Regions from separate parts of the Homo sapiens genome. Here region 2 is reported to be linked to region 1. The links are microRNA targets in miRTarBase. Many come from high-throughput screens and were not tested one by one. Region 1 holds a microRNA gene; the other region holds the end of a gene's coding sequence.

Region 1 (7,120 bases):
ATTTTTTAAAAATAATTTTTTTATAGAGATGAGGCCTCACTATATTGCCCAGGACGGTCTCATACTCATAGGCTCAGGTGATCCTCCTGCCTCAGCCTCCCAATGTGCTGGGATTACTGGTGTGAGCCACCATGACAGCCCCAATATCTTTTTAAAAGAGTCCTAATTTCTTAGAGATTCATACTAAAGTATTCATGGATGAAGTTACATGACTTCCGGAATTTGCTTCAAAATTACCCAATTGATGAAGGGGAATGGAGGCAGAGATGAAACAAGATTTGCAATGCGTTGAAGCTGTGATGGATACGTGGGGGTTTATTATATAATATTATCCAAATATATATATATATAGCTTGAAATATGTGCGTATAAAGTTTCAAATTTTCATATATGTTTGAAATGTTATATTAAAAAATGTCTAAGGCTACAATTAAGGGGTTCTAGAATTGTTTTGAGCAATTGCAACCAGATGGTGTTTGATGCTCAATTGAAGATATAATCTCCATTTGTGTGTGGTGTGTGTGTGTGTGTGTGTGTGTGTACCTACACACATATTCAGATCACCTTTTCATATAACTTTTTTGTATATCATATACATTCCACACTAATTTTTTGCTTACTGCTACAGGGTTTTGCAATCCCAAGAAGAGTCAGCGTTTGAATTTTGAATTTATGTGCAAAAGAGACAAATATGGCTAAAGGGCATGGGCACACTCTCTCTGGGTCCCCGTGTTAACGATTTTAGTAGCTTCTATTTAAATGGTGCTCTTTCTCTAAGAAGATCATTGGGTATTTTCTGAAAGCTTACATAATGGCTGGAAGCCCCCTGCCTCTGCAAAGGAACACCTGATTCAGAAAAGTAAACACCATAACAGCAACCCATTCATCAGCTGCCCAGACTCACAACCAAGCAGACATGCAGCGACTTTCCAAAAACCCTCATTTCTGGCATTACAGCCTGTGGCAATAACAGAGTTAAGGAAAGGTAAGTGAAACTCAGAGAGACACAGTGAGATAATTATTCCTCACGCCTGTTAGAAGAACATTCCACCGTCTCAGAAGAAGCCCTGTCTGAATCTGATTCAGCTGAGAAAACAACTCAGGCCATGGTAGCTGCACCCAACTCTCTAAATCAACAGTGACCTGTGCTGAAGGGATTAAGGCATCCCAACATTCCTCAGAGCCCAAGGCAAGGAGAATCCCTTATGAAGATGAAATTGATCTTCAAGCACCCTCTACCTTACTCTGCGTGATGCCATATTCTTCCTGAATCCCACCCAACTCAAGAGCATGATTTGCATAATAAAATCTCTAATACTTTGATGAACAAATGTTATCCAAGATACTTTAAAAACTGCCTTCACGGTGAGAAATGAACTTAATTCCATTAATTCATTGTCTGTTCGTTATTCTAGAAACATTATTTGAGTGTTCAGCATGTGCTGAGCTATTTAGAGATGTTTCTGAGGGCTAGGACTAGTAACTGCAAATCCTATGCTTTTTTTTCTCTCTTCCACACTGCCTTGGGGATTAAAGACAGTGGCTCTTAAATCTGGCTGTGCTTCAAAATCATCTAGGACAGGAGTGGGCATTGGAACACAGACACGCTCATTCATTTATATATTGTCTATAGCTGCTTTGGCATTAAAAACAGAGAAGTTGAGTAGTTGCAAAAGAAATCACGTGGCCCACAAAGCCTGAAATATTTACCCTCTGTCCCTTTACAGAAAAAGTTTGCTAACCTCTGATCTAGGACCTCTGGACCAGCAGCATCAGCATCACTTGGAAGCCTGTCAAACATGCAGAATCTCAGGTCCACCCCAGACCCACGAAATTTCACTCTCCACTGACCTAGAGAACATGGAGACACTGCAGGTTTTCTAGCTGCACTCCCACTACCAAATCAGAAGTGCCTGGGGTGGGACGTTTGTTTGAGATTCCCCAGGTGAATCTGATATGCAGCCACTAGGGAAGCAGAAAGATGAGTAAGGTGATTACTGCCAGGTCTTCCTATGGGACGGCAGCACCAGATTCTCCAGCTGCTAGGAGAGTTAGCCGCTAAAGGATCACAGCTGAGTGCCTCTCCAGGCACTGCTCCTGTGGAAGGAAATGACCTTACCCAAGGTCACACCTACTTGCTAGGGGAAGACTGCATCCAGCGCCTGGCCGATACAGGGTAAAAAGGCCCAGTCTTCTCAATTGCTGAATGGCCATCCCAGCTCCAGAGCTCCCCAGGGCATCAGCTGAAGCCCCTATTACAACAGCCATTCCACTCCTCCCTCTGCCCTGGACTGTGCCCCTCACCCTATTAGAGAAACTGGGATGCTGACTGAATTATTATTACATTAGAGAATTAAGAAGTTTTCATTAATTTTTAGGTGTGATGATGGTATCATGGTTATATATTAGTTTGAAGTATATGAAATTGCTAATATTACACTATTTCAACCTACAAAAATAACAAAATGGTCCAATCTAATATCTTTTTGGTCCAATCTAATAGATATGGTCCAATCTAATATCTTTTTTAAAGAGTCCCAGTTTATTAGAGATTCATACTGAAGTATTCATGGATGAAGTTACATGACTTGTGGAATTTGCTTCAAAAATGTTTAATTGGCGAAGTGGAATGGAGGCAGAGATGAAACAAGCTTTGCAATATGTTGATAATTGTTGAAGCTGATGATGGGTACATGGAGGTTTATTATACTATTCTCCATATATATTATATATATATATATATATAGCTTGAGATAGGTAAGAGGCCCACATCACAGGTGGTGTTACTAGAGCTCTCTCCAGTAAGGGTTTACCTCAGAGTCTGTTTCTTGGCTCTGTCTTTAAGAGTATACAGTATAATAGCAGAGATAAGTCACAATCATAAATAAGAAAACTCAAAAGGGAGTAAGTGTCCTAAATGGTGTGTGCTATCAGGGAACACATAACTGAAGCAGAAGGGCAGGAGCAGCAGGCTTTTGGGGTGACAGGTGGGCTGTGGGATCAGGTGGGATGCCCTTTGAGGCACCTGATCCCATTGCCCCACCCATCACCCCAAAGGTTGTATGGAGAGGCTGGAGAGAAAGCCTTGAATTCCATACTAAGACATTTGTATTCAGTAGATAGTGGGAAATCATGAAAGGCTTTGAGTGGAAGAATAACACAATAATGATCCCAGCTGTACTTGGGAGTATTTACCTGGCAATAATGTGAAGGGGATTGGAGTGGGAGTGACTGGGGGTGTGAAGACTAGTCCAAAAGTTGTTGCAAATGTCTAGGTGAAAGGCGGTGAGGACAGAAGCTAGCAATCCATGAAGGGGCTGGTGTACAGGAAAGACCACAGGGCTCAGAATGAGACAGACCTGAGTTCCAAACCCCACCCCACTGCTCACAGCCCGTGTACATTTAGACAAGCCATCCCACCGCTCTGACTACCCCCTTCTGTAAAATGGAAATAACAGAGTTAGCTAATAAATCTGCAAAGCCCGGCACATGCTGAGCACCCAATTAATGGAAGCCACACCATGAGGTCGTAGCTGTGTTCGTTTGTGCTTGTACATCATCACTTATCACCCCAGCAAGAAAGTGTGAGCCTGACTGCTATGAAGACTGCCCTTGAAAAGTGATTCTTGGAGGTAATCGTTTAATGAGGCCTCGGTTTCAAACATGCCAGTTGTTTATTGAGGTGCTTAAGCCTGAATCATTCCTCTTAGGAAGGGTGCACAGGCGGTCTCTGCTTCCATTGTAACCGCTGCCATGCCCTGTTGTCATGGTGACCAGTTTCCCAAACTGCCCTGCTATTTTCTGCAAGCCTTTCCAGTTTCTTAACGCCCTAAAGTCCACAAGCCCTAGAGACAGCAGCAGGTTGGGTTTTTTGAACTTCCACAGAAAACACTGTCAACTCTTTAAATTTGCCAGTTGGCTGCGAGCTGCTTCTCCAACAGAAGCTCCCAGCCTGAGCAGCAGTGTGACCCTGCACAGCAGACACCCACAAATGTTCCCACTAACTGGAAATTGGTGCCATGGAATATTAGCTGGCACATCAGTCTCTGGCTGGCATTAATCTTGCAGGAAAATAAGGCAGAAGACAAGGGAATGTCCACCATGCATTTCACGTACACAGCACAGTCTGAAGTTAAAAGACCATTCTAAAAGATTAAAGTTTAAGGTATTGCATTATTTTTAAAAATTATTTCAATATTAGCATATGTGGTTTTTCCAGAGAATGTTCACCTTATGAACTTACTTGAAACATGAAAATATTAAAAACAATATTATTATTGTTGTTACGGCAAAATTGTAACACTAGCAATCATGTCACCTTGGTTTCTGGCAGAACTTCTCTCCCTCCTCACTTACCTAATTCCTTTCCCCCTTCTTGTTCCTGGAAATCTTCTCTCCTCTCTGACCACAGCTATAGGATGAAAGAAGTGACCACTCTGCTGGCAGCCTGCCCAGTATCTGTTCTCCCCATTTTTCCTTTGCCAAGAGGACCCTGATACTTTTAGGGTAGCTTGAAAGTTCCCTGTGTGGAAGGAAATGACCTCACACAACATCACATCCCCTTGCTGGGGAAGCCCACATCCAATGCCTGGTCAATATAGGGTAAAAAGCTAAAAGTTTTGAGTTCCTAGACACCCTTGTAGCCCAGAACACCTACATCATACACTTCTGACCAATAAGACCCAAGCAAAGTTTACTGGGTTTGAGGAAAACTGTCATTTTACAGATAAGGAACAGATCAGGCAGAATGCCCCTTTCTGCCCGTCTCCTTCTTCCCATTTGAAATAAGATGGTGCAGCATCTCGCAGCCATGAGGATGAAATCCACACACTAAGGATGGCAGAGCAATAAAGCCAAAGGAGCCCAGCTCCTCCACAGTGTCCGTGACTGGGTGTGGCCGCCGACCTCCAGACCTCTGTGCAGACCTTCCATGGGCTAAATCCCATTCCTGGAGTTGGTTTCTGTTCAGGCAGCCAGATGCAATCCCTAACTGGTACAAAAGGTGTGGAGGGTTCCCTTCATTCAACAAACATCCACCGAGTGCCTACTCTGTGCTGGGCACTGTTCTAAGCACTTGGACTGTAACAGTGGGTGAGTCCATCAGATCCTTGACCTCTTGAAGCGAGAGAGTCAAGAAATAAACAGTAAACGAACAAGACAATGACAGGCAGTGGTGTTAGGAAGGAAATGACCAGATGGCCACTGGGGAAGGCTGGTCTCTCTGAGGAGGTGACATCTGAACTGAGAGCCAAAGGGTGAAGAGGAGTTAACCACACAGAGGGGGCGGGTGTGGGGAGGAAGCACATTGCAGCAAGTGTGAAGGCCTGTGACAGGAAGGGGCTCCATGTATTCAGAGAACAGAGGGGAATCAAGCGTGGCCGGAACACGCTGAGCAAAAAACAGAGCAGAGTAAACAATGAAATCATGCTGGAAAATCAGCAGGGACCTCGTCATGCAGGCCCCTGGAGGCCAAGGAAGGGACTGGGATTTTATTCTACACATAGTAGAACAGGAAGCTATCAGAAGGCATTAAACAAGAGAGTGACAGGACCTGACATATGTTTTTAAAAGATCGTTCTGCCTATGACATGAAGAATGAATTGTCAAGGGTATGAATGGAAGCAGGCTATGGCAGATGTTCAAGTGGAAGACGGATGTGGCTTGGGCTTGGGGAGGGCCCATGGAGATGCAGAGTAGACCTTCATCCAAATGGAGCTGCCTGTGAGGTTCCCGTATATGGTTACAACAAGGGGCAACCTTGTCAGTGCACTTAGAATTCAAATGGACAGACTAGGAGGAAAGGATCGCTAAAGATGTTTAGAAATGCTCAGATGGCAAGAAGGATGTATGCTGGGTCACTGGAAGGAAAAATGGGAGAATTCACGGCAAGTCTGTGATTTTTTTTTTTATATTCAGAGGGAAAGTATAGGATAGCATCAGGGGCTATTATATGGGGTCTGTCACCGCATATTAATGAGGAATGAATAGAATTGCTGAGAGGTGGTGAGATCATTGTTCTAGAGCATGAATTGCTTATAGGGGCAATCATAACATGCATGACTTTTTCCAGAAATGCTGGGCAGCTCCAAAACAAGAGTGTAAGGAACAGAGGGGAAGGGTGACCCAAGGTTTGAGATTGGCATGACAAGCCTGGTGCAAGCGTGAGGATGTGAGGGGATCCTGGCTGCTAGAATGCACAACACTGAAACACTAAGCCCTTTGTACTTGTGAATGCATTAATTCTTCGATAAGTCCCATCCTACAATGTGGAAACTGAAACCCAGAGAGGCTAAGAAACTTGCTGAGGGTCACACAGCTGATAAATGCCTGTTGTTAAAATCAAATTCCTAGGCCGGGTGAGGTGGCTCACACCTGTAATTGCAGCACTTTGGGAGGCCAAAGCAGGCAGATCACGAAGTCAGGAGATTAAGACCACCCTGGCTAACACTGTGAAACCTCATCTCTACTAAAAATACAAAAAATTAGCCGGGCGTGGTGGCAGGTGCCTGAAGTCCCAGCTACTCGGGAGGCTGAGGGAGGAGAATCGCTTGAACCCAGGAGGCAGAGGTTGCAGTGAGCTAAGATTGAGCCACTGCACTCCAGCCTGGGCAACAGAGCGAGACTCCATCTCAAAAAAAAAAAAAAAATCAAATTCTTTAACATTGCAACTATTATATTATCTCCAAACAAAGTAGCAGGGAGGGTGATGGATGAAGAGAGCAGGTTGAGGCCCAGGGACCCGAGGTCATGATCCTTGTTAAAAGCTGGCTCACTAGTTGGGGAGGAAGTGTATGAAATTGTAAACAGAGACCGGATCTGGCCGGGTGATCCTGTGGGTGTGGCTGTATCAGAATTCAGGATAATGGCTTAGAGAAGAAGGTCAAGAATCCCTGGGTTGGATATCCAGGCCAAAGGGCATCAGCTTTGCCTAACTGCCCACTAAAATGCCTGTGAAGACATAGAAAAAGACCAAGACTCACAACATCACCACAAGTGAAGACTGGTAGGCAACCTAATCCCAGAATCTAGGAGAAGCTGGCATCATTTGTAAAGCAGATTGTGTTAGATTAAGAAAAACCTACCCAGACTTTTGGTTTTGCTTCATTACACAGAAGCCACA
Region 2 (7,110 bases), not on the chromosome of region 1:
TGTGACTTAGCAAGTGCAGGTGAAGAGGTAGACAAGATTGGGATTTCACCAGAGGCGGCCAGTGGGGCAGGAGATGAAGCCCCAAGGCAGAGTCCAGGCTGGGCCTGTGGGTCCTTGTCCTTTTGAGGGGACACATGATAGCCATCACTGCCCAGTGATGAATCCGGACTCTGCTGATTTCTAGTGTTGAGACCTTGGCCTCTGCACCTCAGTTTGCTCATTCATAGAGTGCTCGTCCTTACCTCCAGGGTTATGGGAGGATGAGGTGCAGTCTCCAGTGTGGTGGGCTTGGCCTGGACTCCTCCTGCTGTCAGCTTGGGGTCTGGGCACTGTCAGAGTTGTTCCCAAGCTGATGCCTTTGCCTGGCCCAGGCGCGGTTGACCTGCCCCTGCTGTAACACCCGCAAGAAGGATGCAGTCCTTACCAAGTGCTTCCACGTTTTCTGCTTCGAGTGCGTGCGGGGCCGCTATGAGGCCCGCCAGAGGAAGTGCCCCAAGTGCAACGCGGCCTTTGGTGCCCACGACTTCCATCGTATCTACATCAGCTGAACCTGAAACTCAGGGGACTCTGGAACACCATGGACCCTGGGGGCTGTGCCCCCATCTCCTCCCCACCCCAGGTCTAGTGGCCCCACCCTCCATTCCGGACCCCATGGGCCCAGCCCCTGCCCATCTAGTTGGTTTGGGGACCCTGGTGCATGCTAGTGGGCATGGGATCAGCCAAGCTTCGTTCCATCTTTTCCTAAAGGTCAGAGCTGCAGCCTAGGGGGCACTGCCCTACAGAAAAGGTCTGCCTGAGAGGCCTGAGGAGCCCAGAGCACTTGACTGAGCTTCCCGGAAACTGGCCCTAACCTGTCTGTCTCCGTGGATGCATCCTAACCCTAAGGAAAATTCCCCAGGCTGTGATCTACCCTAGAGAAGGCTCGCTCCCTGCCTACTGGCTCACAAATGAGGACCAGTGAGCCATGTCCTTGTTCCTTGTTTGAGACTGGGCTGCAGGCCCCAGGAAGACTTTCCTTCACCCACCATCCCCCTAACCTCGGCAGGGCTTCTGTCCTGTGGAGTTCCCTGGACACCTTGGTCTGGCTCTTGTGCCAAGGGCTGAAGGAGGTACCCTCTTGGCAGATGGGGGCATCACTTGCTTCCTTTGGGAAGCTCTAAGGTTGCTGCAGTCACCTTCCTCATCTTGCAGGTGCTGAACCAACATCATCAGTTTCTATTCTAATCAGGCCCCTTCCCAATCTCCATTTCTCTGCCAAGCCCATTTACCCCCACCTCATGCATCCCAAGGCTCTACTGGGTCCCTGGACCTAACCCTGCTTTCATCCTGGTGGCCTTAACTACAGTGGAGGTGGAACTTCCCAGGAGGGGAAGGGACAGACCAGCCCCAGCCGCTGGGCCAACTTCCAATCATTCCAGCTAGAAGAGCTTCCCCCTGACACCCTGTGACTGAGCCTGTGTCCTGTCTGCCTGCCCAGCCATGCTCCATCGGCTGTGAGGGCAGTGCCCGGAGAGGCCAGAGGGTTGGAGCTGCAGGGACCCGTTTGGACCCACAGCCTCTGTTCTAGAGATGCTTGTATAGGCTGTTAATTGTGATGAATAAACGTTCAACCCTCGGCCTGCAGCCAGAGTAGCCAGGCCGCGCACCCCAAATGTAGTCCCCCGATTTTAGCTGCAGCAGCTGAGCAGCACTTTGCTGGCTTGGTGTGAGCCTGGGAGGGCTCAGACTTAACGGCCGGCAGGGATCCCGGACTGGGCCTGAAGGGGAGAGCGTGGTGGTCGTCGCGGAGCCGCCTGTCCTGCTCCCACCGACCCCGGTCTGACCACGTCCTTGGCTGTCATGGCCGGGGGATGCCGGGACTCCTCGGGCTGCATCCTGGGAAGTGTAGTTCCTGGTCCGCACATGGTTAGGAGGTTCTCGGAGAGAGAGCTAGTTTCCCGGTTGCGCTGGCCAAAGGCCGGCCTGAACTGGATCCTGCGGACCGCTTCTCAGCGGCTTCACCCCCACACCACTCGAATGCACAGATCGGGACACCTCAGCTGGGTGACTTCCCTCGTTGCAATCGGCCTCGGGAGCGGTGCGGCGTGTACCGAGCGGCGCCCCTGGGCTCAGCGCGCTGCAGGCGCCCCGGGCGGATCCTTCACCGAGGCAGGACTGGGGCTGGCGCCAGAGCCGGTGCGGAGCGGTGTTGGTTCAGGCGCTGGCGACAGTGCTATGGCCACGGCAGGGGCCGCGTGCGTCTCAGCGGTGGCGCCTTCGGACCCTATTGGCGCCCGGGACTTAAGCGGGGCCGCCGCTGCTGGACCAGGACGAACTGGAGAAGGAGACGCGGGCCGCCACGGTGACCTCGGGCGTAGGGCCGGCGGCGGCGGGCACGCTGGTGGAAGCGCGGGCCGCGGCAGGGGAGGACATCGGGCCGCAGAGAAAGTGCCGATGGCCTGGGGCAGCGGTGCGAGGGTGGGAAAAACGCAGGATATTGCATCATAGAGACGCGGCCACCTTCGCCCCTGGAGAGCGCCAGTCTCAGGAGCGCCGCACCGGTCACGGGTGGAGGTCAGCCAGGCCTCCGTAAGCGCGGTCCCCTTCCAGGAGTAGCCTTCGCCTGGGCTCTTGAGTAGATGCCAAGTAATTCCGCATCGTCTCTCTAGATATCTGCGCTAAAGGCCACCCGGTCTCCTTATCAGAGGGGCAAAACTCTCCTCGTGGGTCTTCATACCTAATAAAAGTCGGCATCAAACCACTTTTTCAAGGTCAAGTCCAAGGGAACGGGGTGAAGATCCCACAATGTCAGTGAGGCAGCAACCACTGATGTGGTGGCAGGAACCAAACCTTTTTTTTTTTTTTTTTTTTTTGAGACGGAGTCTCACTCTGTCTCCCAGGCTGGAGTGCAGTGGCACGATCTCGGCTCACTGCAACCTCTACTTCCCGGGTTCAAGCGATTCTCCTGCCTCAGTCTCCCGAGTAGCTGGGACTGCAGGCGTGCACCACTGCGCCCAGCTAATTTTTGTATTTTTAGAGACAGGGTTTCACCATGTTGGTCAGGCTGGTCTCAAACTCCTGACATCATGATCTGCCTGCCTCGGCCTCCCAAAGTGCTGGGATTACAGGCGTGAGCCACTGTGTCCGGCCAGGAACCAAACTCTTAATAAACATTTCCCATGAGGCTCCGGTGCCGGGAGGATTTGCCTTAATTTTTTGACTGCTTACCACCCCTAGTGGTCCCAGTGGCAGCGGTACCCTGGGCTGCTGCCCAGGGACTGGCAGACCAAAACTACTCCTGGGCCCACCCCGACCTTGGCTGTCTTCTTGGGAGTGAACAGATGTTGGCATCAGTGGTGGACATGCCCGTTTCAGCCAGACCTTGGGCACTGCCTGTGATTGGCCAGTGGGTTGCCTGATGTAGACCGCTGTCTTCTCAAAACTTCCCTTGCATCCGACGGTGCTACGCTGTCCTGTCCTGGTTTTTCTCATACTGTCTTCTGCTGGTCCTCTTCCTCCACCCCTAAACTAGACCTTCTACTTTGCCACTTTGTGTGTGTTTATTCATGGTTATGGCTATAGCTAAGCTGATAAGGACCTAACTGCTCCAGCCACTCCTCTTTCCTGAGCTCCAGACCTGGAGAATCACCACTGTTCTTGTGGAGAGAAGAGAGATCATGTCACTCTCAAATATCCCCAAGTGGTACCTTCCCCGAGCTCCTCCAGGGGCTCCACACTGTGGGCTCTGCTCTCTGCCTCTGTCTTCCCATAGTCCCCTCTCTGCTCTAAGCCCATACCCAACTGTTATGCACCCCTGTCCTCCATCCCACCCCCAGCCGATACACCTACTCTTGGGTCTTCTTGCAGCCCTCATCCTTCAGGTCACTTTCCCCGGAAAGCTTCCTGACCCTCCACTGTGGCAGGCACCATCTCTGGGTCCACAGCCCTTCTGCGAAATCTCTGAGGCAGTCACTGCCCTGTGTCTGCTCTTCTGCTGTAGTCACTTTCCTGCAGATTTCTCCAGCACTGGGACTCCTGATAGACCTCAGTGTCCCCAGGGCTTGGCACACAGAGAATGTAGAGTAGCCTTCATTACTTGCTTCTCCTCTCCTCCCACCCCCCTTTCCAGGTGGGGAAGGGAAGGAGACACTGAACCTGCCCTGGGTTGTGGTCAGAGGGGTACAGGAAAGGTGGGGAGACACTTTCTGGCTGGGGCAGGATTCCCCCAATCCCCCATGGCCAGGCCCAGGGCCCAGGAGACTGAGCACTGAGGCAGGCCTGAGATTGGGATGGAGTGGGCACAAAACATGCTTGAGTTCCTGGCCATTCTGGTTTCCTTCACGGACTTGCTGTGGATCTTGGGCAATTGGCTGCCCTTCTCTGAGCCTCGCCTCTCCACACAGTGAGGGCACAAGGGCTGACATCCTGGCAGTGATGACAAGCCAGGTCTCCACCCACCTCTCCCAGGGTCCCCAAGTGAACCAGGAGTGGTGGATGCCAGCTTCTGAAACTAGATCCTCAGAACTTCCCTGTGGCAGGTTGCGGGTATGGTGGTCAGAGAGGCCTCCCTGGGGCTGCACAGCTGGGCCTGAGCTGGCCAGCGCCAGAGCCACCAGGCGGCCACTCTGCAGTCCTGCTGGTGGGAAGGCCAGGCACCGATGAGAACAGCTTAGCTTGGCTGCCATCTCATCAGATTTATCCCTTTCCGCACCAAGGGACTGCAGCTTAAAACTTCATAAACTCTTCAGCTTCCCACAAGCCAGCAATGGATGGGGATTTTAGGGCCCCTGGGTGAAGGGTGGGCCTGGGGCTGGGCTGAGCTTTTGCAGTCACTCCTGGGCTCCGGCTTAAGGTGAGGCCACACTCTTTCAGCTCACTTTAGGCTGAAAGAAAAAACAAGAAACACCCAGGAAATCTTATTCCCTTTATTCTCTTCAACTAAGCAACATGACCACCAGTGACACAACACTGTTTTGGACACACAACACTCAAAAATGGGGCCTCTCTTCACTCCATGGGGACAAGTCCGGTGACTGGGGCTTCCCTAGTGAGGGCAAAGGAGTCTGGGAGCTGCTGACCTCAGGGCAGGTCATGGAACCCCACCTCTTGGCTGTGATGGCTTCAAGTTTCCCCACCATTCAGGATTCATGCCCAGTTCCAAGTTCCCATCTGACCTCCATGTCCATAGCAGTTTCAAGTTTCACTCTAAGCTCTCCCCTCTGCTTTCCCCACTGACTCCCTGACCCTATCTGTTGGGCTCCTCCCTCCACCAGGGCGTTTCTGAGGGGCCTGGGGCCTGCATGTGATTGGACAAGAGGGTTTGGCTGCACAGTGCCTTCCAGACTCAGTTGTGGTGAGCAAATGCTTTGACCCCTGGGCCTTCATCTGAGCCGATCTGAGCAACTCTAGCCACTGCCACCTCCCTGCTTCAATCCTCCCAAGACGTAGCTCACTCTGGGAGGGAAGCTCCTGGTTAAAGGAGCTTGGGGAGGTGGGCAAGAGAGAACACGCCACACCCCAGAGGTATCGAACCCTGCCCCTTTCCTACCGCAAGACGCCTGACCCTACGAACTGTGCGCTCACATCATCCATCCCGTACAAGAGCCAAGCCCCTTAGCCCTCACCCATCCCTACAACATGTGAGCATCCTACTAAATATGCTACACCCTAGTCCGAAACAGGCCTGCGCCGGCCTTCAGTCACACTGCCTGCCTCCCCCCAGACTGGCCTCTGAGCCCCAAAAGCTGCTCCCCAGGCCTCTTCTGGGAACAGATTCCTTAGGCCTGTTTTTGAGAGCATCTGCTTCTGGCTTTGCGAGAGGTTTGTCTTTACAACTTCAGTTTCTGCTACCATCTTGGGGAGGGGGACATCTCCTTAGACTTGGCAGACTTCTCATTCTTACAGGGCACCCCCTTCGTTGGCGTTCTGTTAGGAAGAGACCCACAGGCAGCACCCCCCTCAGTAGTGCTTCCCTTCCTGGCACTTGGATAGGCTGGGGCGTTATGCAGATGGCAACATGGTTCTCCGCACAATCCTGAGGCCTGCCTTCTCCCTCTCCCCAGCAGGCCTGGCGTTTTCCTCCCACAATGTTTGAGATTTTGATCCTTTTAAATGTGAGGGTCATCCTGCTGGGGCCAGGATAGACAAATGGCGAAGGATTTGCATAAAGGTTGTGTGAAACTTTAGGTCATGGAATTAGAGGTCTCTTCCACAGCTTTGCAAAAATCTGGGTCACCCCTCTCTTGAGACGTGACTCCTGACGGGCCCCACAGCTGGCATCTCAGTCCTCTTACTCCAGGACAGCGCATTACTGGGGTTGGCAAGCACTTCCTTTCTGACCCAGCGCTGAGCAGAGTCCTCTCCTTTTGAAGGGGTCTCCAGGATTAGGGAGTGGGAGTCTTGTTACAGATGTTTCATTCAAGAGTTTTCTGTCTTCCACCATCTCATAGGGCAACAGTCTCTCCCCAGCCACATATGCCCAGGCCTGTGAGCAGGCTTGGCTGTTTATGAATGTGTAACTGTGTGGTGTGGGAGGTGAGATGGGCCTGGCAAGGGAGGCTTTCTCATCCTTCTGTTTCCTTCTGAAGGTTTCTGGCTAAGGAGGAGAGGGGAGCCAAGTGAGTGGAATCCATCCCATCCATCTCAAGGCTGAGATTGGGCTGGATCTCACAACCCTGGAGGGCTCCAGGTACCAGGGTGAAGAGGGTGATACGGCCTCTGCGGACTCTTCAGGGACCTGTGGCTCAGTCTGTGGGGTGTCTGGATCCCCACCAGGGAGGAGGGCTGCCTTATCCTGCGGGGCAGCCTTGCTACCAACAAAGATGAATAGCTGAAGTTTAAAATCAAGTTGCTGGCTAATCAAAGCTTTCTAAGAAATTCTGTGGCCCTGATGACTTGGAGAAGGCTGGGGAGGCCCACACGCAGGCCCTAAGTCTCTGAAGGGCTTTATTCTTTGGAGGTCGACTAGCAGCGGTTCTCCCTCTCCACTGAGGACAGAATTTGAGGAAATGAGCTGCCACTGGCGGCAGTTAGATTTCAGGAAAAACCTCCTGAAGGTGAGACCTGAGAATGTGGTGGGAGGCAACCGCCATCCCTGGAGGCCTTGCAGAGTAGAAGTCCCTGGCTGGGCAG

The links. Region 1 holds the annotated microRNA hsa-miR-3151-5p (GGUGGGGCAAUGGGAUCAGGU, at 3,024-3,044, opposite strand). A microRNA usually pairs through its seed, bases 2 to 8, with sites in the 3' UTR of a target mRNA and lowers its output. Matches are read on the target gene's strand: a 7mer-m8 pairs with bases 2 to 8, a 7mer-A1 pairs with bases 2 to 7 and ends in A, and an 8mer does both.
Region 2: the mRNA of RNF40 is a reported target of hsa-miR-3151-5p. Seed matches in the 3' UTR shown: 7mer-m8 at 628-634 and 7mer-A1 at 2,002-2,008.

What each region holds. Positions count from the first base shown.
Region 1 is chr8:103,150,547-103,157,666 of GRCh38, reverse strand. It overlaps MIR3151 (microRNA 3151), which reads right to left and starts at 3,053; the gene lies at 2,978-3,053. The region is part of intron 1 of BAALC (BAALC binder of MAP3K1 and KLF4); the gene reads right to left. It overlaps BAALC-AS1 (BAALC antisense RNA 1), which reads left to right. Exons shown (of 3, transcript NR_109954.1): 3 at 629-677.
Region 2 is chr16:30,773,567-30,780,676 of GRCh38, forward strand. It overlaps RNF40 (ring finger protein 40), which reads left to right. Exons shown (of 20, transcript NM_014771.4): 20 at 372-2,741. The coding sequence ends at 548. ZNF629 (zinc finger protein 629) reads right to left here. Exons shown (of 3, transcript NM_001080417.3): 3 at 4,890-7,110. Among named protein-coding and RNA genes, the nearest start is that of ZNF629, 10 kb to the right of the region's middle. RefSeq lists enhancers at 999-1,677, 1,678-2,354, 2,684-2,793 and a silencer at 2,274-2,353.